Linked DNA regions of Homo sapiens. Each later gene encodes a partner of the first gene's protein in a complex. Each region holds a gene or a part of one and is shown on either strand. Other genes may lie near its edges. A codon is read from its position in the direction of its gene.

The links.
Region 2: the proteins of NMUR2 (region 1) and GNAI1 are in contact, whole or in part, in a cryo-EM structure (PDB 7XK8), measured with the Homo sapiens proteins. Residues at the interface, in NP_064552.3 of Homo sapiens: Thr78 (codon at 10,808), Thr80 (codon at 10,814), Glu143 (codon at 11,003), Arg144 (codon at 11,006), Ala147 (codon at 11,015), Ile148 (codon at 11,018), Pro151 (codon at 11,027), Phe152 (codon at 11,030), Ala154 (codon at 11,036), Leu156 (codon at 11,042), Met239 (codon at 11,291), Leu243, Gln259, Cys262, Arg263, Val266, Leu330, Ser331, Arg333; in NP_002060.4 of Homo sapiens: Glu28, Ala31, Arg32, Leu194, Ile343 (codon at 4,376), Ile344 (codon at 4,373), Lys345 (codon at 4,370), Asn347 (codon at 4,364), Leu348 (codon at 4,361), Lys349 (codon at 4,358), Asp350 (codon at 4,355), Cys351 (codon at 4,352), Gly352 (codon at 4,349), Leu353 (codon at 4,346), Phe354 (codon at 4,343).

What each region holds. Positions count from the first base shown.
Region 1 is NC_000005.10:152,398,359-152,415,689, reverse strand, and holds the start of NMUR2 (neuromedin-U receptor 2), read left to right. Parts: upstream 1-10,410; 5' UTR 10,411-10,576; coding exon 10,577-11,302; intron 11,303-17,331. UniProt on the Homo sapiens protein: Receptor for the neuromedin-U and neuromedin-S neuropeptides.
Region 2 is NC_000007.14:80,211,902-80,221,830, reverse strand, and holds part of GNAI1 (guanine nucleotide-binding protein G(i) subunit alpha-1), read right to left. Parts: intron 9,116-9,929; coding exon 8,962-9,115; intron 4,529-8,961; coding exon 4,338-4,528; 3' UTR 1-4,337. UniProt on the Homo sapiens protein: Guanine nucleotide-binding proteins (G proteins) function as transducers downstream of G protein-coupled receptors (GPCRs) in numerous signaling cascades.

The DNA.
Region 1 (17,331 bases):
GAGTCTTTTCCCAATGTGTTTTTGTCAGCTTTGTCAAAGATCAGATGGTTGTAGATGTGCAGCCTTATTTCTGGGCTGTCTGTTCTGTTTCATTGATTTATATGACTGTTTTTGTACTCATACTATGCTGTTTTGGTTACTGTAGCTTTGTAGTATAGTTTAAAATCAGGTAACATGATGGCTCCATTTTGCTCCTTTTGCTTAGGATTGCCTTGGCTATTTGGGCTCTTTTTTTATTCCATATGAATTTTAAAATAGTTTTTTATAGTTCTGTGAAGAATATCATTGGTAGTTTTACAGGAATAGTACTGAATCTGTAAATTGCTTTGAGCAATATGGCCATTTTAATGATATTGATTCTTCCTATCCATGAGCATAGAATTTTTGTCCATTTGTTTGTGTCATCTCTAATTTCTTTGAGCAGTGCTCTGTAATTCTCATTGTAGAGATCTTTCGGCTCCCTAGGTAGCTGAATTCCTAGGTATTTTATTCTTTCTGTGGCAATTGTGAATGCGATTGCATTCCTGATTTGGCTCTTGGCTTGGCTGTTGTTGGTGTTTAGAAATGCTAGTAATTTTTTTACATTGATTTTTTATCCTGAAACTTATCTCAATTTGTTTGTCAGCTGAAGGTTGCTCCAATTTTTAAAGGGGTAGAAATAGTGACTCAGAGAGGTTAAGCATCTGCTTAAGGTCACACAGCCAGTAAGTGTGAGGCCTAGATATTTGGCAGTCCTGCTGCCTTTATTTTCTTTCTATCTCTTCCCACCATCTCTACTGTCACTATCTAAGCCCAAGTGACTGTTATCCCTTATTTAGACTAGTGAAATAGCCTATATCTCCTCATCTTTCCCACCTCCATTCATTTTCTCCCTGCAGCCAAGAGGGATCTTTTTGAAAATCATGTCTTTCCAGTTTAAAATGTTTCATTGGCTTCTTTAATAGCAAAGAGAAACAAAAGTAAAGGCCTTAGTATGGCCTACAAGTCTCTGCATGGTCCTGATCTCACAGTATGCTCCCCAGGCTCAGTTGTTACCTGTGGAGGGTGTCCAGGTTCTTGGCATCCTGAACAAAGAATTGGACAAAATGCACAAACAAAGCAAGGAAAGAATGAAGCAACAAAAGCAGAGATTTATTGAAAACAAAAGTACACTCCACAAGGTGGGAGCCCGACTGAGCATAGTTGTTTAAGAACCCAGTTACAGAATTTTCTGGGGCTTAAATACCCTCTAGAGGTTTCCCACTAGTTACTTGGTGTACACCCTATGTAAATTAAGTAGTGGCCTACAATCATTCTGACTGGTTGTGGAAAGTGACCACTCAGAGGCTGAAGTGAAGTCACAAAGTTATACTCCTCTAAATAAAGACTTGGCCCAAGACCAGCCTGATTGGCTGTGGGAGAAGACCAATCAGAGGTAGTTTCAGTTTTTCATCTGCCATGCAGAAAAAGGGGAGTTGCAATGGGCATAACCTGTGGTCCTTTTGATACTTAGGCGTGGAAAGTTGGGGTTTTCCTTTTGATTTAGTTCTAGGAAGTCAGCATGAATCAGCCTTAGGTTCCCTGCCTCCAGACCCTATTCTCCTGCCTCACAGTGGCCTCCACACCTCCTCCTCATGGGTACCAACCTCTCTTCCCTCCCTGGACGTTTGCACATACTCTTTGCTTTGCCTAGAATGCTCCTCTTCCAACTCTTACCTCCAATGCTTCATGTTGTGAGTTTCTACTCTCTGATCTCTGCTCTAGATCACATCTCATAGCATTCCTAATAAAGTACCTCTCTTGCGTGACCCTGCTATAATTTTACATTATTATATGATTAGTTGATTAGTCTAAGTCATAACCATACCCTGACTATTTTTGTTCAAAATACCTTTCACCATGCCTGGCACACTGGTGTTATCTACAGGTAACCTTATTATATAAATAATACTAATATGAAAAATTGCCACTTACTTTATCCTGCAAGCTAATTTACACCAGAACAATCTGTGTACATTTACAATCTGTTCTGGTGTAAACACTTCAGTGCAAAATACTTCGACAAGTTCTATTAACTTGAGTGCATAAAATTTTATTTTGTAATTTAAATGGAAAAGTCCCTTACATTGTGAATCCCAGAACTGAGTACATGTCAGCTATGGACTGACCCTTGGGTGAATATATTGTATCTATAGGAATACTCTGTTTAAATGTAGGTACCCCTTAAATGCATGGCTCAGTAATTTATGTGAAAATAGCATAGCTTTTGTGACATGGTGATTCTGAGCCGTAACTCACTGCAAAGGCTCTGCATTCAGACAGCAAGTGGTCAGGTCCTGTACAAGTACCTGTGGCACTGATGAAAATTAACTGTGTGAGTTCGTGAAGCATGTAACCTTTCTAAATCTTGGCTTTTCTCATCTGTAAAATGTGGGTAATAAAAATACTTCCTCTTTGGGTTGTTGCAAGGATTAAATTAGAGAATACAAACAAAGCACTTAGCTCAGTGCCAGTCGATCATGGAAGCTGGCATTGTTGATGATGATTTTTCCTCACAGAGAAGAGATGCTTAAAGAAATAATAAGATTTCAAGCACGACTGGGGCAGGAAATTTTAGACAATGGAGGATTTTTCTCCTTTTAAATAATACCACTAGCGAGGTGCTGTCTTTACTGAGTCACGTTCTGATCTACAGAGCAATCTGTGTATTCTAGATGCGACTCAGGTATCCACTTTCATAAAGAAATAATTACCAAAGCTTCCATCTGCTAGTGTTTTAAGAACCCTTAGTCATTCTCTGTTTTAAATCAGTAAAAGCCATTGAGATTAGAGCTGAAACTGACTCTATTTCCATCAAAGAGTTCAGAAAGAAATCAACAGCCACCCATGATTCTCATTGTGGATATGTGACATCTCTTGCCACAAAGTTCACCCTGACTTTCTGGGAAACTGTGAAGGCACAGATGTATCTATAAAAATTAATCTAAATCAAGGACCTATCTCCTTTGTCTCCTATAAATCTGCTAGAGTACAGACCCACTAGGCCTCATTTAAAAAACACTAGATTGATCATCAGGGTGGAAGAATTACTGTGATTAGCCAAATGCCACTGATATTTTTGGAACATAGACGGGACCTTAGCTTTCATAAAAAATACTCTCAATTTAGTGATGAGGAAAAACATTTTAAAAAATGAACGAAGGACACAAATAGACATTTCTCCAAAGAAGATGTACAAATGGCCAATAGATATATGAAAAGATCCTCAATGCCACTAGTGTCTGTCTGCTCAAACTAGTGCAAATAGTCTTGTTCTGGTGCTTAACAGAACTGAAGATAACTCCCCTTGTTCTAGGCACTCTATTTTCATTGTTGTTATCCAAGGTCACATGAGCATTTCCTAACTCCCTGGGATGCCAATGCTGAAGAGAGCTGGAATGTTATGCCTCTGAATCAAAGTTCTGTTCCTACTAACAGAACTTTCTAGAAAATTTCTTCACATTGTTAGTGTCTATAAAATAAAAACTTTCTTATAAGATGATGATGATTTGCCTAATTATTCCTTTGACAAATGTGGTTGCCTTATATCCAATCTAGTTGCTACAAGGCCTTTTCGTTTATATTCCCTTTACTGAGTAAATCCTCATTACCCAGAACAGTGCTAGATGCTAAAGCACAAGGAGAAGTCCCTTGGAAAGATAGGATTGAGAAGCCAACACCCCCATGGTCACATCTTCCCAGGAGTTTTTTTTACTCCCCTTCAGGTGGTGGAATTTTCCATATTATCCCAGATGAAGACAGTGTAACACAAAAGTTTCCCTTCCCAGCCACAATCGACACAGGTGAAAAAAAGCCTTTGTTGTTTAAAGTCACTGAGAGTTTGGGGTTGTTACCTCAGCAAAATCTAGTCCAAGTTACTGACTCAAAACTGGATCTGAAAGTGGAGCATTGCTATAGAACTCTAAAGTATATGGCATTTGTCTAGGGGCCAGATAATGGGCAAATAAAAAAGTATTATTAGAAGCTGGAAGTGTCCATGTGGGAAACTAATAACTTGCCCTTTTAGTTTATAGGTCTCTGGAATGAGAGGATCCTCATATGGATGTGACAGAGAGAATACTGTTCTATTTTCTGCTATAAAGAACATCTTGGATGTTCTCCAGAGATCCTGGATTTTTAACTTGCAGCTGTGACTGGGCTAGGAATGTTGGGGTATCTGCAATAGAGAAGGGAGAAGAGTCTTTTGCCTGCAAGAAAGAATGTTTGTGTCCAGAGGAGCACAACATATAGTCATTAATTCTATTTACCAAGTAGTTTTGGCTTTCTCCTCCTAAGCACATAGTGAGATGGTTCTTTGTGCCCTCCTTAGAATTAGGATTTCCCATGTAACTTGATTTAGCCCTCAGATGTGAATGGAAGTGATCTCTGTCATTCCTAGGCAGAACATTTAAGTAGGGTCCCCTTGGGAATCCTCCTTTGGGAATTGTAAAAACACCAGTTGGAGCCTGAATTCCAATGTGAGATCAGTGTAGGACCGAGACTACTGGACAACCCTTGATGACATGTAGAATGAGCAAGAAATAAACCTTTATTTTAGTCTACAAAAATTTGGAAATTTTTGTTACTGAAACATAACCTAACCCAAATGACTGATATACTACGTGAGTTTCAACTATTCCCGTAATCTGCATGTGCTTCTAATGGCAGGGATAAACAAACAGCCTACCTTGTAGGCAGTATTGTAAAGATTGTATGTGCTGATACATGTAAAAGCTTACAACAGAGCCTGGAAAGAATAAATGTTCAACAGATGTTATCTAGTGTTATTGTTTTTTATTTTATAGATTTTAGAAAATGCTACTGGTACTCCCAAATCATAATCCCTTGGCCCACGTGGTTTTAGCTACAGCTGGGAAGGATGGCCCTTTGCAAGCTCAGACTTACCCAGGCTGATAGGGTTGCATCATAAGTCTATGCCACATTTCTATTTTTCTACTCCATAGCCTTCCCTGACACATGGAAGCCTATGCAACCCATGAGCAAGAATAGCCCAGAGATATAGGGGAGTTATTGCCCCAGGAGCAAACCTCAAACAATAGGGGACAGAAATTGGTGGGTAAATACTGATTTCTTATTTTTCAGGGGAACGATTGAGAGGTTCTCTCTTCACTTATCAGGAAATCTCAGTGGAATTGACTCTAAATTATTGTTCTTTTAGGTTTTCTAAATATTAGTTCCCCCTCTGTCCATGGGTGTCACCCAAATATTTTTTCAAATATTTGAAAGTGATCCTCATGCCCCACTTTTTTCCTCTGAGTCTTCTTCAGGCAAACATCTCCACTTGCATCAAATCTTACCTACAAGATATTGAGCCCCTTGCTATTCTCACCATCTTCACATAGTTGGTAAGTACAGGTGCAAACCTTGGTGACCTGGGGAACAGATGTCTATATACTTTCCTAGAAGCTATTCTGACTTGCTATACTGCACTAAAAGTTAATTAAAAGCTGGAAGTACTCCTCATTTTAGCAGCTCCAAGCACATCTCCCAGTTTTTAAATCTTGTAATAGTCTTTCTGACCCCAATAAAAAGAAAGACATCCCCATCATGAAATTATCATTATTATTCAATTGCATATCCCATTATTAAATACTTATTTAAATATTATGTTATTTAAAATAATTTACACTGAATATTTTACCAGGAACGATTTAATTCTCCTAGAAATCCTGTAAAGCAATACTGCTATTTTACTCATTTTGCTGATGGAGTAACTGAGGCTTACAGAGTTTAATTATGTTCCTTATGGTCACATAGCTAGTAGGAGGCAGAACCAAGATTTGAATCCCAAAGCTACGCTGCAGTCCGTGCCTTTATTACTTCTATAGCATCTCCCTGCATTGAGCCTGCTACTACATTCTGTACTAGACATCATCCTTTTTGATTAGACCTACCCTGTCACAATGTGGAAATGCCTTTGAATTTTAGATTTGTTGCCTCATATATTAAGAAATATTGGCTGGGCACGGTGGCTCACACCTGTAATCTCAGCACTTTGGGAGGCCAAGGTGGGTGGATCATTTGAGGACATGAGTTCAAGACCAGCTTGGCCAACATGGCGAAACTCCATCTCTACTAAAAATATACAAATTAGCCAGGCATGCCTGTAGTGTGCATGCCTGTAGTCCCAGCCTGTAGTCCCAGCTACTTGGGAGCTACTGTGGTACATGCCTGTAGTCCCAGCTACTTGGGAGTTACTGTGGTGCATGCCTGTAGTCCCAGCTACTTGGGAGGCTGAAGCAGGAGAATCACTCGAACCCAGGAGGCAGAGATTGCAGTGAGTCGAGATTGCACCACTGCACTGTAGCCTGGGCAACAAAGTGAGAATCTGTCTCAAAAAAAACTACAGAACTACAAAACACTGCTGAAAGAAATCATCAATGACACAAACAAATGAAAACACATCCCATGCTCATGGAGAACAGAATCAATACTGTGAAAATGACCATACTGCCTAAAGCAATCTATAAATTCAATGCAATCCTCATCAAAATACCACCATCATTCTTCACAGAATTAGAAAAAACAATTCTAAAGTTCATAAGGAACGAAAAAAGAGCCACATAGCCAAAGAGAGGCTAAGCAAAAAGAATAAATCTGGAGGCATCACACTACTTGAGTTCAAACTACACTATAAGGCCATAGTCACCAAAACAGCATGGCACTGGTATAAAAATAGGCACAAAGACCAAAAGAACAGAATCGAAAATCCAGACATAAACCTAAATACTTATGGCCAACTGATCTTCAACAAAGCAAACAAAAACATAAAGTGGGGGAAAGGACTCCCTTTTCAACAAATGGTGCTGGGACAATTGGCTAGCCACATGTAGGAGAATAAAACTGGATCCTCATCTCTCACCTTATACAAAAATCAACTAAGATGGATTAAGGGCTTAAACCTAAGACCTGAAACTATAAAAATTCTAGACGATAACATTGGAAAAACCCTTCTAGACATTGGCTTAGGCAAGAAATTCATGACCAAAAACCCAAAAGCAATTGCAATAAAAACAAAGATAAATAGCTGGGAGCTAATTAAACTAAAGAGCTTTTTCATGGCAAAAGGAACAGTCAGCAGAGTAAACAGACAACCCACAGAGTGGGAGAAAATCTTCACAATCTATACATCTGACAAAGAACTAATACCCAGAATCTACAACAAACTCAAACAAATCAGTAAGAAAAAAAAATCCCATCAAAAAGTGGGCTAAGAACAGGAATAGACAATTCTCAAAAGAAGATATACAAATGACCAACAAACATATGGAAAAATGCTCAACATCACTAATAATCAGGGAAAGGCAAATCAAAATCACAGTGCGATACCACCTTACTCCTGCAAGAATGGCCATAATCAAAGCATCAAAAATCAGTAGATGTTGGTGTGGATGCGGTGATCAGGCAACACTTCTACACTGCTGGTGGGAATGTAAACTAGTACTGCCACTATGGAAAATAGTGTGGAGATTCCTTAAAGAACTAAAAGTAGATCTACCATTTGATCCAGCAATCCCACTACTGGGTGTCTGAGGAAAAGAAGTCATTATTCGAAAAAAATACTTGCACATGCCTGTTTATAGCAGCACAATTCGCAACAGTAAAATTGTGGAACCAACCTAAATGCCCATCAATCAGTGAGTGGATAAAGAAACTCTGATATATATTGATATATATGGATATATCATATATGGATATCCTATATATCCATATATATGGATATATCATATATAAATACTATATAATATATATTATATATAATATTATATATAATATATCTTATATATATTATATATAATATATATAATATACAATATAATATAATATATAATATAATATAATATAAATATAATATATAAATATATATCCATATATGGATATATAATATATAAATATATTTCCATACATATATATGAATACTACACAGCCATAAAAAGGAATGAATTAACAGCATTTGCAATGACCTGGGTGAGATTAAAGACTATTATTCTAAGTGGAGTAACTCAGGAATGGACAACCAAACATCATATGTTCTCACTGATATGTGGGAGCTAAGGTGTGAAGATGCAAACGCATAAGAATGATACAATGGACTTTGGGGACTTTAGGGGAAGAGAGGGAGGCAGGTGAGGGATAAAAGACAACAAATATGGTGCAGTGTATACTGCTTGGGTGATGGGTGCACCAGGTTCTCACAAATCTCTACTAAAGAACTTACTTGTGTAACCAAATACCACCTGTACCCCAGTAACTTATGGAAAAATATTTTTGTTAAAGAAAGAAATATTTTCCATCTTCCTCAGCGCTAAGTTTATAGTCTGCCACTGTGCACCCTTATAACGATCCTTACATCTAAATGAGATATTCTCATTAAACTTTTCCTATTTCATTAGAAAAATACGTTAAAGTTTGTAAATAGTGATTTTAACATCAAAACTTGCCTTTAACTAGAGGGCCCTAATTCTGGCTCTGCAATACCTATTACATGTCTGTAATTATTATTAATGTTATTGATCAATTTTTCCTACTTTTCCATCTTCTGTGCACATGCTAAGACAGCACTTCCTGACCCTGCTGTAGTCGAATGGGTACATATGATTAACCTTGGTCAATGAGCTGTGAGAAAAACTGGCAATGAGTTACTTACTTTTGGGCTAGAGCCTATAATTACCTACTTAAGACCATCCAGAGCTCTCTTTTCCTCTATCACAATGATAATCAAAATTCCAGAGAGTGACCACTGCATCAGCCTAGGTTTATGAGTGAGCATAGCATGAGACAGACCCTCAATACATTTGAAGTACAAGAGAAATAAATCTGTATTGTTTAAAACCACCAAGATATGTCAATCATTTGTTACAGCAGCGTAAACTATCTTAACTTGAGAGATGACTTATTCTTGGACAAGTCACTTTCCCTCTCTAATTTTTAACGTCATAATCTGATTTAACAAATAAAGGGAAAAAATTAACATTTAGTGAGCATCTCTTAAGTATAAGTTGCTTCGTTATATATAATTTAATTTAGTCTTCTCAATGACCATAAAAGGTATTATCTCCTGCAAAAATATTCCTAAATCCAAAGAAATCTCTCAACTCCACTGCTCATAGAATCCAAGCCACTACTATGTCTTACTAGCCTCTTACCTACCTTCTGTTAAAATTTCTCCCTCGTTAATTCTCCAGTGCAAAATCTTTTAAAGACTTCTCCCTGCCATTTGAATCAGAGCTAAACTCTCTTCCATGGCCTATAAGAGTTTACATGAACCTGTACCTGCCAGCCACTTCAATCTAAGCATTCATACTTTGCTGACCACTTATTAAATTCCAGTTATTCTGGTCTTCCTGATATTTTTAAAACCTATCCAGCTTGTTTCTGCCTCAGGACCTTTGCACTTGCTATTACTTTTGCTGAGTAATACACTTCCCTTAGCTCTTTCATGACTGACTTCATCATTCAGACCTCAGCTAAAGTGACATCTCCTGAGATAAGTTTTCTTTCACCATCCTTGATAAATAATTATTTATCAATTACTATCTGAAATTATATTATTAATTTATTCATTTGCTTGTGTGTTTTCAGAATTCCCTACTGCAAGAAAAGCTCCACTAGGGCAGAGACCTTGTCTTGCTTGTACACTAGTGTTTCTACAAAGCTTAGAACATTCCCTGGCAAATAGTGAATCCTCAAGAAGTTATTGTGGAACGCAATCGAATTAATGATGCAGATAAGGAAATAAGCCTCTAAGAGTTTGGGTAACTGTGCCAACTTTCCTAAATTTCTATGAGTGTTCCTAATTCTGAAGTCCATTTGCCTTTTGCTTACAGCAAAGCTCTGCTGAGACTGAAGAGTCAGTTAGCAGTCAGGGCTAGGCACTGTGCATGCGCCCTTTCAGGCTTCGGATTCTATCGTTGATGCAGTTAAAACCAAAAAGTCACATTAATCATGTTATCACATTAATCCCCAGAGAACCCTGAATTTCCAGTGGAACAAGATAACTTGAGAAATCTATTGATCTCCTATTTTCATCATGCTGTACGGCTGACAAGGGTTAGTGGAGATTGGTATTCTTTTGCCCATGGCCCTGCAACTTTAATTTCTATGTCTACCCAGATTCCCACAACTTTGCAACCTGCATTGCTCAAAGTGCCCATCCATGAAGTTCGAGTGGCTTCTTTTGTGTCAGCTCTGCCTTCCCAGCTCCTTCCCATTCAGGGAGAGGTCTCTGCCTCCTCCCCTGCTTCCTGACTCGAAGCCAGCACCCCTCTCCTCCAGTGCAGCCTAACACACTCTCATTGGCCCTCAGCCTGTCAAGGGGAGGGGCTTGTGTCTCCGGGGCTCTTCAAAAGGGATCGGCGGTCCAGGCAGCCTAACCTGGAGGGTGAAACACTCACTCTCTCCCAGCCTTCCTTACGAAGCCTGTGACTTTCGTGACTGCTTTCTCTTTTTTGTTTTCCTTTTTTCTTTTTTTTTTTTTTTTCCTGGCTCAGCTTGAAACAGAGCCTCGTACCAGGGGAGGCTCAGGCCTTGGATTTTAATGTCAGGGATGGAAAAACTTCAGAATGCTTCCTGGATCTACCAGCAGAAACTAGAAGATCCATTCCAGAAACACCTGAACAGCACCGAGGAGTATCTGGCCTTCCTCTGCGGACCTCGGCGCAGCCACTTCTTCCTCCCCGTGTCTGTGGTGTATGTGCCAATTTTTGTGGTGGGGGTCATTGGCAATGTCCTGGTGTGCCTGGTGATTCTGCAGCACCAGGCTATGAAGACGCCCACCAACTACTACCTCTTCAGCCTGGCGGTCTCTGACCTCCTGGTCCTGCTCCTTGGAATGCCCCTGGAGGTCTATGAGATGTGGCGCAACTACCCTTTCTTGTTCGGGCCCGTGGGCTGCTACTTCAAGACGGCCCTCTTTGAGACCGTGTGCTTCGCCTCCATCCTCAGCATCACCACCGTCAGCGTGGAGCGCTACGTGGCCATCCTACACCCGTTCCGCGCCAAACTGCAGAGCACCCGGCGCCGGGCCCTCAGGATCCTCGGCATCGTCTGGGGCTTCTCCGTGCTCTTCTCCCTGCCCAACACCAGCATCCATGGCATCAAGTTCCACTACTTCCCCAATGGGTCCCTGGTCCCAGGTTCGGCCACCTGTACGGTCATCAAGCCCATGTGGATCTACAATTTCATCATCCAGGTCACCTCCTTCCTATTCTACCTCCTCCCCATGACTGTCATCAGTGTCCTCTACTACCTCATGGCACTCAGAGTGAGTATCTAGGCTGGGGTGGCCTGAGGCAGCATCCCTTCTTTTTTCACAGGCTCAAAGTTCAGAGAAAAACTTAGAATTGGGGAAATTCAGAAATGGAAGGGAACAGAGGGAAAATAGAATGAGCTCAGATGGGAAATTGAGACTTAAAAGGACTTGCCTCAAATGAGATGAATGGTAACCACAACTATTTATCATTTCCTTTAGCTCGTCTTCTATTTTTCTTCCCTCTATTCTTGGGGTTCTCGTATCTAAATGTTCCTAAGAATCATGCAGAAAACTTACTTTGGGAGCAATATGCATACCTCACCCCCAGGAAAATGGGATTCAGAAGGTCTGAGGTGGAGCCTCATTTTAAATAAGCACATCAGGTGATCTGGGGTGAGGTGGCCACACTTTGAGAGACTTCTCCACATCCTGTTGTCACTTTCCAGCCCCTGGCCACTGCCTGCATTGAGATTTTCCTGTACACCAACTTGGTCTGAGTATAACACAAACTATCCCTGCCTATTTTGTAGTCCAAGATAGGTATTCAGTTTTAAAATCAGACATTTACTGTGGTTGCTCCGACCCTTTCATTAAAATGAGGTTGAAACAAAACAAAATAAAACTATATATATTATATGTATAGTTACATATATAATATATAGTCATATATATAATATATAGTTATATATAATATATAATCATATATATTAATGACATGACTGAGATAACTTGAGCTTCTTTTGAGCAGGTGCAGATTGAGAGATAAGGAAGTAAACAGCACATGAGATAGAGTGAAAAAATGTGAATAAGAGCTTATCTGAAATTAAGAAAAAGATATCACTTATTTTGCAACATATATAATTAGAGGTTCTTTTCCTATGTTTATGGTGGTAAACTGATTTCTTTTTCAGAAGGGGGGTGTCTAAATTAGCTGAGAGAAACTATTTTTAATAAGGGTAGGAATTAGTCTATATAATTCCTCTCTGGTATATTCTGCACCCAAATTCATGAAGAGAAAAGTTCTTCACAATGACAATTTTACACCCACTTAAGGGAGGTATTATAGCTTGTGTAGTAAACAGTTACGAGACCATTTAGACTCCCAGATCTACAGCTGACATATAATATGCCTTTAGGCAAGCCACATCATTCTCCTGGAATTAGTTTTCCCGTGTATAAAATGAAAAGGTCACATCAGATCCTATCTATGTCCCCTGTAGCTCTAACAGTCTATTATTCCTTTAAAAAAAGAAAAAAAAACACCTGTGAGCTGAAGTAATGTGAGTTTTAAATGACAGGACAAACAGATATCACATTCACATCATTTGCTTTGAGATGGCTCTGACATCACACTTTATGTGACAACTAATATACTCCTATTTCAGTCCATCTCTGAGAAGCCGATTGTCAGAAGCGAGTGCCCAATGGTAGTCCTTTTGAATACCTATTGTCCCTAAGGTGAATAGCGAGGTCTAAGTAGGAAGAACAAATTCTAAGTGTCACGGACATCTGGGCACAAGAGTAAATCTAATTAGGCAGAGAGCTGTGCCAGTCCCCTCCTGGAGGGCTAGCACCTGTATTCCCAGAGACATGTCCCACCCCGCACTAGCTCACAGCCATGTCTTAAGAACGTCCTGCACATCTCACTGCGGGGAAAAGACTTCTATACAACTCCAAAGAAAGTCTTATGAGAAATACCCACCCACTTAATATTACCTCATCCAATGCCAAACAGTCACCTATTTTGGGTCAATTTGGGAAAAATATTTAACTTTGAGTAGGAAATGCACAGTTCCTCTTCCAATCTGTTACAATCAGTTTCATTGTGTTTTATTATCAAAAGTCCATGGCTACCTTGTATCAGGAGGTAAGTGACAGCTCAGACAAAAGTTTAAAAACCACCCTGGTTTGCTTTGTGTATGTAATGCAACTTTTGACAGCCTGTTTTCAGGAAGGATGAGCTGTTATCCAGGGTACCAGAGGACACCAGGAAAGAAACTAACGCTTACAAAGTCACTTCTAGAAGAATTTAAAAATCTCTATACTGAAACTCAGGAAAAGTAGGCCCTATTCTGTGTCACTGATCGCAGGGCCTTTATGTACACTATACCTGTAGCCTGAAATGTTCCTACTGTCTGCCACCACTCCCCCTTTTGCCTTTCTAACCCTCATTTATTCTCTGTGTCATACTTCAACACGCTTCCTCAGGGAAGCTCTCCCAGATTCCCTGAGCATCCCTGTTTCCTGTTGTAGGTACTCATGGCTCTCCGTGATTTTCCTTCATTACAATTTATATTTCCATACTTATGGATTCCTTAATTAATTGTTTTCTCCCCAACTAGACTGTAAGCTCAGTGAATGAATGAGGCCAAATTACTTCCTTCATTGCTGGGCTTTAGCTTCTCTACCTTTAAAACAAAGACTTGGAAATATCATCTCAAGGAGACCCAAGCAATCCTAATGATTAAGTGAGTGACTCTGTTGGATAGTTTGAAGGTATGATTGACTCTGGGACCCACTGCTTTCAGAAGGCAGCAAGCCCAAGACTGATGAAATCACAGGACCAGAGAAGAAGGAGGAAACCCATATCTGTGCTCACAGCTCGGCATTCAGTCACGCTGCATCATTCCAGGACACAGCCACCACTGAGCTGTTCTCCAGGCTTTGAACATTATAGAGATAGAAAATAGACAATTCTAGGGCAAGTCCCTCCACATGTGGGAGGAAGTTCTGGTGACAGTCTGATTTAGTTCTTACATCTCCTGCATGCTGCATTCATGATTGAGGTGATGAGGATGGATGTATGAATTGCAGCAGAATTCAACCATGCCAACACAGGGTTGCACTAATTTTTTTAAGTAAATAGATTGTGTTAAGATTATAGAGATATTTACACAAAACCTATATTATAATCTGGTATTCTGAAACTAAGTCCCACAAACTATATAAATGAACATCTGGTAGAGTGATTTCAGGCAGTATAAACAACTGATCAGCATAATGTATCAACCTGAATAATAACCTCGCGAACCTCCCTTTCACTTTGCTCTTCTGTAGCTAAAGAAGGTAATCACAATTTTTAGTAATCACACTATATAGTAATGGTAATCACAACTTTTAGTAATCACAATATTTAGTAATAGTAATCACAAATTTGCACTCCTCCTTTTGTAACCTGAGTTGTAAAATAAAAGTTTTGGGGTGGGGAAGAATAATGAATGGTTGAATATCTACTTTACTAAACATCTGTAGGGAAGTGAAATTATTCAACGATAAAGCAGCATTGAATATTGGCTAGACTAACTGTTTTGATTCTATTCTATTCTGTCAACCACTCCAAATTCTGTTGGAACAATGTACACCATATGTAAGTAATCAATTTTTCACTCTTCCTCTAGTTAGCTAGTTAGGTCATTATAAACTAAGGAAGCTGCAAAATAAGCAACAATTCATCAGCACATGATTTTCTTTTTAGTGTAAACTATGCTGCTACAGGAAGCCTGTTCATAAAAGAATTGCGTGAACTATTTGTTTGATGTTTGATTTTTTTAAAAATTGTTCCTTGGGGTGGAGAAATTACCATTGAGAACTGTTAAACACAAGGCAGGAAGTGACTAATATATCTCAATATTTTTTATTGTTCTTAATTATGAACTGAAATAAAATAATAGAATAACTGCATAATGTAAAAACCACAATCTTTAAGTGGCATGAAGTAATTAGAACCTTTAATAGATTTAATCTAAGATGAGTTAGTAAAGTTTGAAGTTTGATACATTGCTCTAACCTTGAATGTGTTTTTCTTCTCAGCATATCTGCCTCCTTTGTATCAGTACAGGCACTCTTTGTGAGCGAGTGGTAACATGAGAAAAGAATTTCTAGAAGGGACTCAGTACTTCACAAAAGTAACCTCACATATATAAACAAACAACTCTAGTTTTTAAAAATCATTTTTTCTGATGTCTCTTTAGTATACTCTGGATAATAATCAGAATCACTGTAATAACAGTAATATACAACTTGCTGAGTATCATGTGCCAGGCACTGAGATAAGCACTCTACCTGCATGATTTTGTTTTACTATTGCATTAATAATACTTTTCACCTTCAGATTTTTCCTTTCTAGTCCTAATCTCACAGAGTCTTTAATCCTTTACTTTATGAAGACACAGATACATGTAGAACACTCCGATATATTCAAGAGACAAATGGCCAGGTTTATACATTATCCAAGAGGATTCTTGAGGTCCTATGTGGTCCTGAGTGCTACCTAACTGCAAGCAGCATATATGTTTGTTAGGAAGACTGGATATGGATTTGCTGAAGTTTCGAGGCAGCTTTTAAAGACCCACTCTTCCAAGTCTATTTAATTTTAAATACCTTTTCTGGAATATTCCTTCAAAATGCTATCCAGCCCAGGACGATTATTGCTTCTTATAGCAGTTTGTTTCATTATTGCACATAATCACAACAATTTCTTCCTTATCTTGAATTAGAATCTATCTACCTGTAACTAAATAGATTGATTCTAATCTACTGCCATGACTGTATAAAATAAGTTAAATTTTCGTTCCACCTGATGGCTTCAATCAATTAGCCTGGACTTTTTACACTGCCAATGAGAGACTCCAACCCTGGGTAAATACCAAAGGGAGCATAGACATGAAAAGTTCAGAAGCCGAGCTAGCTCTTGGTGAAGATTAATTAAATAAAACACACGATCTTATTATAAACCTAACTTTATTTCTGTTTCTTTGCTCTTTTTTTCTATGGTGTTGGTTTCAACCTCAAACTGCACACAGTCATCCTTTGGTGGCTCCAAGCATTTTTTCTTTGTGGTGGAAAAAAAATAACGTTTGTAATTCCAGACCTCATATGCAGAGAAGGACTCTCTCTGGCAGTCCCAATAAAAAATAAATGAAAACTTGCATCTTCAGAAGCACAAGCAAATATCTGAAATCTCATTGGTCTGCATTATTCAATCATTGTGACTGGAGGATAGGACAAGTTGATTGGCTAAATTGTTTAGGGACTATACCTGGAGCTGAAGTTTAGTGACACCTCTATACAAATTAAAGACTAAGAATGGGGAAGGAGTACATTCCCTAAGGGAAAATTAGGGTGCTATTATTAAGAGAAGAGAGAAGTAAATGCTAGAGAACTAATGGGCAAATATATATTCACTATGTACTATACTAATTTCTGGATATTTGATGGTATTTTATCATGAGTCCTTAAAGCTTCCTTTATTTGGCCAAACATCCCCACAAATTAAAAAATGTGTAAAATAAAGAGAAAAACTTCCACAACTGGATGAATGATGTAGATCTTCAGTGCTGTGGGAGTTCAAAGGAAGGAGAAGACAGTGGGCTAAAGTGGTCATCAAAGTCTTTCAGGAACAGGCAGGACTTAAACTGAGCAAGGAAGATTGTGCATACAAGTAGTGTTGATAGCTGAAAGTTTCAAATGTTACATCAAGGATCTCCATATCGTCCAACAAGGATGAATATACTTTAAACATCTTAACTCAGAAACACATAAGACTTTTCAGTAATTAATATTACTGTAATATTAAAACAACATTTCCCAATTTGTGTTTGTCAAGATGGTACAAGGTAATCCACTGAAAAGGGTTGGGGGAAAATATTGTTTACTCAAATAAACACTATCTCCCTTTTGGCTAAGATATGAGTAGGTGATGTGAGTGTGGAAGGTAGAGGGGAGCTAAGTGGAAAGTTGATACACTATCCCCCTTGAAAATTCATAATGCCCATCAGCATATTTAAGTCTCTGAGAAGATCCACAATAAATACTGATGAGGCAAGAAGAATTCCTGTTTTGGTTTTCTACTAATTATCCACCACAGAGCAGAAGGATTTCACTTTAACAGATTTCTAATAATTATGAATGAGTGAATGAATGAATTGAGAAGCCTTTCTAACTTTTCTTGAACTTCAGAATTTTACATTTTTCATGGAACACCTATTAACATGCTACACAGCCAAGTTTCCACATAACTGTATACGAAAAGTGGTTGCACT
Region 2 (9,929 bases), on another chromosome or scaffold:
CCTTTACTAAAAATACAAAAATTAGCTGGGTGTAGTGGCGCATGCCTGTAATCCCAGCTACTCGGGAGGCTGAGGCAGGACAATTGCTTGAACCATGGAGTTGGAGGTTGCAGAGAGTGGAGATTGCACGACTGCACTCCAGCCTGGTGAAGGAGCAAGACTCCATACCAAAAAAAAAAAAAAAAAAAAAAAAAGAAAATTTCCAACCTAACATTAAAATATAAACTCTCTCATACTATTGGTTACATTAAAACGACAGAAGTGTCCTCAAGTTGATTAGAGATTGCATTTTCTCATTTTCCAGTATCAATATGTGAGACACTTAGTTTTCATTATGAAAACGAATTATGAGAGTTTTGTTTTTGAGGCATTTCATTCAAAGCACGTATCAACAACCATTTGTTAAGCACTGATTATGATTTTAAAGGCACCTTAAAACTATTATTTATAATCAAATAACAGCAAATTGTATTGACGGCTTATACATTCCACACTCCCCTCTAGGTACTTAACATGTACTGTGAACTTATTTAATGCTGACAACAACCATTAAAATTAATGGATTATTTAATCCTTATTTATTTTCAGATGATATAAATGGAGGCAGAGCAAAACTAAATTATTTGCCCAGATTTTCCCAGTTAATAAGAAATTGAGCCAGGATTTGAAGCCAGACGGGGTGCCAGAGCCTAGGATTTTCACCATCACTTTCTACTTCCAACATAACACACTAAGCAATGATGATGCTACCATCTGTAATAATGATTACAGTATCAACTAAATTCATTTACATAAGGTGGTTCTGCAAACGGCAAATGATGTAAAAAATGGTAACTGTGCTCTTAAGTAGCTTCACATCTAAGGAGTAAAAAATAGCTCTGATGAAAGACATTAATAAGTATCTCCTTTTTTAAATCTGAAAAACTATTATGGCTCAGAGGAACTCAAGGGCAGAGTGGGGATAGGCGAAACACTACTTACACATTTTCTGGAAATAAGGTAGCATCTTTGGGGTCCTCTGACAGACATGGAGTCAGAAGCTCTAGGTTTAAAACCTTCATCTGGTCTTGCTCAAGTTAATTAACCTCTTTAAGCCTTTTTTGATCTCTAGTTACTGTCAGTATTCAATGAGAACATATGGATTTTAATCAGTACTTTTTCAGTAACAAACTGAATTCGATTAAACTAGATTAGGCATAAAAAAGTAGACTTTTAGAAGGTTACTGAAATGAAGAGAATTTTAGAAACCACAAGCGCCTTAGGGACTTTAAGAATGGCAACTGGGACAATGATTGGCTCACTCGTCCAATGCTGGAGGACTCGGATTGGTCAGGTCTAAGCCTAGAGACGGAGAAGTAAGAAATGCGATTGGCAGCTCTATCAGAATCATGTAGTTCCCAGAAGGGCACCCTGAAGAACAGATGCCAGAGGAGTCTAAAAGAGGTATCACAAACAAATTTAAAAGTGCCAAATTTAAAAGTGCCAATACATTTTACACACCATTTTAAAAGTGCTAATAAAAATAACATTGACAGACACAAATGAACACTTCCCACATTGTAGGCACTGCTCTAAGCATATCACATGTAGTAAGTAATACAGTACTTGGAGGAAAGCCCAGGTTATGCACAGGACACTATTTGGATACAGTGTAGAAAGGAACAGGCCTCAGGTGATGAAGAGCATTAAATGGCAGGCTAACTTATACTTAATTTTATTGACAAATCAGAGCCAATGCAGATCAAGGAATAGAAGGTGATAGGGCCACAGTTCTACATTAGGATAACTAACCTGGGTTTTTCGAGAAGAGAGAAATGGGAGGTGGGGAATTTAACTAATAATGCCATTTTAAGAGGAAGTTTAGCAAAGACTTGAATAGGTAGTAGTAGGAATAGAAAGGAAAACAAACAAAAAACAGATTTAAGGCTTTGTAGAACTGTCAGTAAATTGAAATGGAGATTAGGAATCAGAAGAGTTCCACCTAATGCATGCAGGGCTTAAAACTTAGATGACAGGTTGATAGGTGCAGCAAACCACCATGGCACATGTATACATATGTAACCAACCTGCATGTTCAGCACACGTATCCCAGAACTTAAACTAAAAAGTTCCCCATTGAAGGAATAAATGATGATGGTACTTAGTAAGGAAAAATGGCAAAGTCAGGGTGAGAACTGGTGTAAGGAGAGAATGATGATGAATTTAGTTTTGAATATAATGAGTTAAAAAGCAGGCAATGCATTCTCAGAAGGGGATATCAAGAAGGCAATTCCAAATGTGGCATCACATCTCATAGCTTGGAACAGGGAAAATCTGAGCTTCTGGAGTAGCTGAAATTGTAAAAAGAGCATAGAAAAAGAAGAAATGAAGAAACAACAGACTGATACTTAAATTCTAATCCAAAATGTACTTAGCCAATAGGTTTGTAAAATTTTAAAAATTTAAATTTATTAGGATTTATTAACACAATTACACAGAATAAAGTTCAGGATTTCATTAATGATGGTCACCAATATGTGCTTCTTTGTGGCTTTTTAACCCATAATTCTCATGATTCAAATTTATTCATATTATAGTTGAATTTCATACACAGCTTCACAATGTGGATATTACAGGTCCACCAGTAAAATTAATGAAAACATATCTTTCATGAAAGGCACATAAAGAATCTAAACTAACACATTTAAGGAACTTTGATAACTTTGAATTTCTTTACATTACAAAGAAGAAAATCCTCCAAATGAAACAGATATGAATATAGTTTATGGTTACACACACACACACACACACACACACACACACAAATATACTTCAACCCAGTGACAACACGTAACTTGGAAACTACTTACCAGCAACGTGTACTGAAAGACTAACCTTTTCCAAGATGAGTAAAAAAAGGAGGGTGGGGTGGGGAGTGCTGTTTACTTTGCTGAAACAAGGTCAGAGATGACACATCATGAATAATCAAAAGAAAATTATTCTATCAAAGCTCAGTATCTAGCTGATACATAACACTTATTTGAGCACACATATAATCACTGACTTATTAAACACTATTACTCATTTTCTAAGTGTAATCGTCCATTTCATTCTCAGAAATAATAGTATAATTGAAAAAGAAATGATATAATCTCAAGCAAGTGGAGAAATTTGAATTATCTAAGGGAAAAAAGTAATTTTAACATAGTGTGATAATTACATTTGAAATTAGTTATATGTATAAATTTAAATCTTGCATTATATCAGCAATAGAGTATTCAAAGATCCTTCTTGTTATCTTCCCAACAAGGAGCTATCATGTATGCTAGGTACAAGAGACTCCTCAAGGGAAATAAAAGCCTCACCAATCAATGTCTCAAAATTCATTATGTCCACAGGTTTTTTTTTTACCCACAAAAATGCTCTTAGGATCCCTCCAAACTTAGTTATAAACAAAAATGTAGTTATTTAAAGTGAATAAAAATTAAGATGACATCACCTTTGAGGCAATGCATTCATATCAGCCAAATATTAAAATTCAGAGTGAAAACAAGTGAATAAAAACTAAGTGTGTACAATAAGTCTAAGACAGTATATCCTCAGAAATCTGAAATTTTAGTTTTTCAAACCAAATCTAACGTGGAATCTAATGTAAAATTAAATTATTTTATTTTCTTAAAGTAGGAAAAATCAAAATGCATACAATGTTTAAATAGTTGATCCAAAGGCAGGTGTATTCATCTTAAGAACATTTCAATAAAACACATAAAATTTAAAGAACAAATCATGTTATTAAAATAGTCTGTGCAATGTTTGTACAAATAACATTTTTATTAATACAAGTATACATATAATCTAGATAAGGGCTGTAATGTTTCCTAATATTAATTACTGTACTTAAAAATTTACAGGACATGAACATAAATAAAGCTGTTTAAAACTGGCAAACGTAGTAATAGTCTGTCATTCAGTACAAGGTATATTTATGTTATTTCCAAAGCCATCACCCTAAAATCCTAAGTTGCCACTCTTAAAACCTAAAAATAATGTCGAAAACTAAAGTCATAAATACATGTATACATACATTTGCATATTTACACTTATGCAGAAATCATCAATATACTAGAGCCCAGCTTTAACACTGTCCTTCAGTTTCACACTGCAGGACCATCTGTCACATTTAAGAAAGGTCCTTCTGTTACTTTCAGTTAAAAAAACAAAACAGAACAACTTTGGTCAAGTCCCAGATGCATTTGCCTTATATTACATTCTGTGTTGCTGCAAGACTCTAGTCTACAGAGATCCATATATAAGTACTCATTTGGTTTGAAAATGCATTTTACCATGAACTGCAAAACTTAAAAGAGACCACAATCTTTTAGATTATTTTTTATGATGACATCTGTTACAGCATCAAAAACAAACTGCACATTCTTAGTATCTGTGGCACATGTGAAGTGGGTGTATATTTCCTTTGTGTCCTTTCTTTTATTGAGGTCTTCAAACTGACATTGAATATATGCAGCTGCCTCTTCATATGTGTTTGATCCTGAGATGGAAAAAGGAAAGAAACATAAATGCAAAAAGTTAAAATAACTGCTTAAAATACTGAATTCAGTTTCATACATATGAAACTGAAGTCAGTTTCATACAGTTTCATTCATGGACTCCTTAACTGTGCTTTCCCTTCTAGAATGGGAGACACTATTTCTTCTAAATGAAAAACACTCCATGTTAATTACCTTTAATGACTAAGTTATCCCTTAAACAAAAAATTTCCTTTACATGGCATTCCGTGTTCATCATGATCTTTGTTCCTGCCTCAATCCTCAAATGCCAGATCTTTTATCCTCTTATCCTCTGTCCTCTACACCCCAGCTCAGATGCTTGACGACGGCATGCTATTTCAGTTCTGGCCCAATGGTGGATCAAAAAATGTTGGCTGAATGCTGATCAGTATTTTTTCCTCCCTTTTCTATATATACATTAATTTGCATTCTTCACTCATTTTTCTTTATTCAAAAATTGTACCAAGGTCTACAATGATGTTTAGGAGTATGAGGTTACAAAAAAAGTGAATGACACACTCCAGCTTTCAGGTTATTGACTATAAAAGACTTCCTCTGAGTACAAACACTCCAGAAATTGTTTGGCAATATCTAAAGATAATCACACACACACTCTGACCCCGCAATTCAGTTTCTAGATATACACTTGACAGAACTGTGTATCACTGAAGACACAGAAGAAGTGAGAATGAAAGTACTCAGTAACATGAATTAATCTCCTAAGTGTACTGTTGAGCAAAAGAAGCTAGATGCAAAAAGATCGCATACTGTATGATCCAACAATGTTTGAAAAATGAACTGGTGAGGACAAAAACCTCACCAATAGTGTCTGTGGAACATGTGAAGTGGGTGTATATTTCCTTTGTGTTCTTTCTTTTATTAAGGTCTTCAGTGATTATCAGTGAGTAATCAGTGATTACTATGTGTATGGGTTGTGATTGTGTTATGTGTGTGTTGTGGGGAGGGTTTGATTGGTTAAGACTGAGAGGAAGCATGATGGGGCTTTCTGGGGTCCTGAAGCTGTTTGGTTTCTTGACCTGAGTGGTGGATACTGGTACATTAACCTTTAAACACGCACTTATGCTGAGGGTGTGTGTGTACGTATGTATGTATGTACATAATATTATAATATACATTAATGTATATAATGTAATGCTCTATGTAATGCTTCAATAAAAAAACTGAAAAACATTCAAATTTCATTTGGAAAAAAACTGTTTAAACCCCTCTTTTGTAGTAATAATCCAAAATTATCTGCCAGACTTTCAAGGTCCTCTACTACCCAGCCTGCTCTGCAGTGCCATCATTCTGAGATCCTCTCCTCCACACTGGCGCTCACCCCAGGTCCATGTCGTGAGGACCTAACATGCAAACTGCCACCTGTGGTACTGTAGTACTTCCTCTTCATTCTACTTCACCGGCTGAGATCTCTGCCTGCCTTCACATTTGCTCAAAATTGGCACTCCATCTAACTTTTCCTAATTAATCAAATCTAGCTGGGTTCTCTATCACTTAAAAACTTTTTCCTCCTCCTAGAAATAACTATTTCAGTTTTTGTTATATTGCTTTATAGAGTCTTAAATTCTTTTTCAGTGCTGAATCTCCTAAACTAGAATGTGAACTCTTCAAGAGTAAATATCATACCCCACAAGCCTCATACTCCTTTTATATCTTATAGAATCCAGTGTAATACAATGTGACAAATGCCCATAGGAATGTTGTGTAATGTGCTATGACAGCATAGATTATGAGATTTTTATTAGGGATAAAAAGGTACTAAAGCTATCGTCTTTAAGTTTACATTTTAACTCTTTTATATCACTAGAAATCACATACTTTTAAAAATCAAATTTTATTAAATCATAAGTTTCGTTCTCCAAAATTTTAAAGCAATCAACAGCATCTTGTTGGCCCACAGAAGCTAATGCAACTGCTAAATTAAACTATGCTTCAGCCAAACAGCTTACATTGAGTGCCTAGCTCAATTTGCTCTATATATCCTAGGCAGCTAGCTAGATTACCCTAAAAGCTACAACACATATGAATGAACATTCTTCATTCTGATTTTAAGTCTTAAGAAACAAATGGCAAAGCAGGGACAGGAGAGCAAATATGATAGATTGTTTTTTAATGTGTGATAGAATTGTCCTGAACAAAGGTAAGTATAGGTGATAACCAGGTTCAAAAATGAAGAACTGGGAGGCTGATGACACAATCAAAAGGGAAAGAGAAGAGATCTGAGTGTAAACAAGAAAAAGAGTTCTGTTTGAGCTTCAGGTGCTAACCAACCAACCAACCGACCAACCCAACCAACCAAACAACAACAAAACATGTATGTTCAAGCAGTTGCTAATGTAAATCTAAGGCTCCAGAGAGAAATTAGGGCTGACCACAAAATTTAACCTATTGAGAATAGATACGACTATGAAAGGATAAGAGAGCTAAGATGACGTGACTGCAGATGAAACTGGTGAAGTGGCAACATACAGGAAAAAGAAGAGGAGGAGAAGGGTAACACAGGAGCAGACAGACAGGAGATAAATCAAGTGAGTTGTTTAGGGGCTACACAGGGTTCTTCCACAGCCACAGGAAATTGAGAGTTGCGGCTGAAGCAAGAAGCAACTGAATCAATACTTTGGGCATGCCATGGAGATCTTAAACAATAATCTTAACTCTGGGGATGTGAAAGAATTATGTAATATTCTTTTTGTGCAAAGATTCTGAAGTCAGGTATTCTTATTAACTTAAGCAAAACACAAGCAAAAATTCCTAAACACACTGTCTACTTGGCAAGGAAAGAGCTAACAAGTATATTCTTAGTTGCTCTAAAATCCCCGTAGGTATACAATATTTATGGATTCACTTGGGGAATCTGGTACTATGAATTAGTACAAAATGGCTACATCATAGAATATGATAAAAATAAACTGAAAAATATATTCAAATAAGGGAAAAATTAAGCCATCTTGACTCTGGGTAGCTTATTTCTAATAAGCACAAAAAAATGTTGCTGAATACAGTGATTTAGGACTTTGACTTTCAAAAAGAAAGCAAAGTTTTAAAGTAAGTAAATGTGTGAAATTAGTTTGAACTGAAGTGTAATTTCACCGTACACAAAAAGAGCTATAAGTAACATGATTATATTTACCAAAGAACCCTCCCCTTTTGGTTCCACTGAATGTTTAATTAAATGTAGCCTAGTCGTTCATGGTCTAGGAGCAGGAGGACAATGGACTTGGGTCTGGAACTGGACTCTGGCTTCAGGAAGCCCCGGTATTCTCATTTGTATGGGTAGGGATACCTGAGCACTGACATCACAGGGTTGTCTTAACATTTCCTGTAAAATGGCAGTGAATACTCATCGTACAATTTACTCAACACAAGACTGAGGAAAATTCTGTTTATAAAAAAACAAATTCTTGAGACTTTTAAAAAAAAAAACAGGAAGAGTGGGGTGAGGGTAAATAACTAAACTCTTCAAACTATCTAGATTTGGAGATTACATAAACCAGTGGTAATCAAACTCCCTGTTTTTTTAAGGCATACTGAATGCTCTTCACTAAAGTAAAACTTTACTCAATACATAAACCAGATGAAAGCTGAGTTACTCTGCTTTAATGAAAAAGTTATAAGGTGGTGGGTGCAGGGGGCAGTAATTAGCTCTGTTCCCTCTCCCATTTCCGCCTTCAACAGCAACCCAGGAGGTGCTCCAAGGAACTAAATTAAACTAAAACTAATGTTTTAGCCCAACTCCTGACTTCACAGATGGAATACTGAGACCTAGGTGAACTAACTGCCTTGTTCAAGATCAAAGAGCTAATTATGGAAAAGTCAGGACTGTACTTCAGGTCTACTTTCCTCACTCCAGGGAATTTTCCATCATAGTAAAATTAAAGCACTATTAACAGTCTCATTACCAAAGTTTTGGCTTCTTGTGAAACCTTCCCTGCCCTTCTGGAAGAGTTAGCTGCCTCAATGATCCTGTCTTCATTTCCCCTTACTATAATGTTCATGTTCCTTATTTTAGCAGTAGGTTGCACTGCTATTGCCTGTTGTTTAAGTATGTCTGTCTTTCAGATTAGATGGTGGGCAGAGACATGTCTTATTTATTGTACATCACACAGTACCTGATATGAAATCTGTTAACTGGATTTAAAAAATAGTATTTTAACTTGGAGTCATCACTAAAAATTATCTAACTGCTTTTCCATAAAATGAATACATTATTTTCAGTAATTTCATCTACATCTTAAGGAAATTTTTATGCTCAACTGCAGTTTGATAAATAATACCCCTTAAAGGTCTAAGAATCACTAAGCCAAGAGATTTAAATTAACAACTGAATTCTTGCCTTAGGGGAAGTTTCACTTAGAAATATGTAACTTGACAAGTTATTCCCAGAAAAGGAAAATACCTGCATATTCTGGATAGCATATAGTGAGAGGGCTCTTTTTGATTTTTTCTTCAAAGAGATCCTTCTTGTTTAGAAAAAGTATAATGGATGTATCTGTAAACCACTTGTTGTTACATATGCTGTCAAACAATTTCATGCTTTCATGCATTCGGTTCTGTAATAGAAAAAAATAAAACCAATCGTCACTAACAGCAAGGATTTTTGAGGACTATTTTAAAAAATAAAAGGTGTTGTAATAAAACAGAGTTTAGTGATTGAAAAATACGTATCACAAAAATACATTTCTGCCATTTCAGAACACACTTTCACTTTAGGTAAGAGAAGTGTCTAATCATCTTTCACCACTTTTTGCATTCAACTTTTACTTGCCAAGTGCCCACTATATGTCATGCTCTGTGCCAGGGAATATCCTGCTACAGGACATTATAATCTAGGGATGTGAAGTGTGAACATGTGAAAAGAAATGACATTGTCATAGAGTTCATTTCATCTAAATTTCCATTAGAAGATAAATAGAGGTTTTTAAAGATTAATAACTTAAATTGAACAAGCTAAGACCCAATTAGCCCAATACTCTAAATATTATAATAAATATAAATACTGGAAGGACACTTCCAATTCCTGTTTCTTGACCTTCCAGGATCTGTGCTCATCAAAGAGGGCACTGATACATTTTATAGTGCTGAAATGAAAGAAATGAACATGTGGTGTTGCACTGCACCTACTACACTATAATTTCATATACTTGATTTTAAAAATACAATCGTCTCTCGGTATACTCAGGGGGATTAGTACAAAGACCTCCAAGGGTACCAAAATGTGCATACACTCAAGTCCAGCAGGCAGTTCTGTGGAACCCACACATAGGAAAAAGTGGCTTTCTGTATACTCAGGTTTTGCATCCCATGAATGTGCTTGGTTGAAAAAAATTTTCATATATGTGGACCCATGCAGCTTAAACCCGTTGT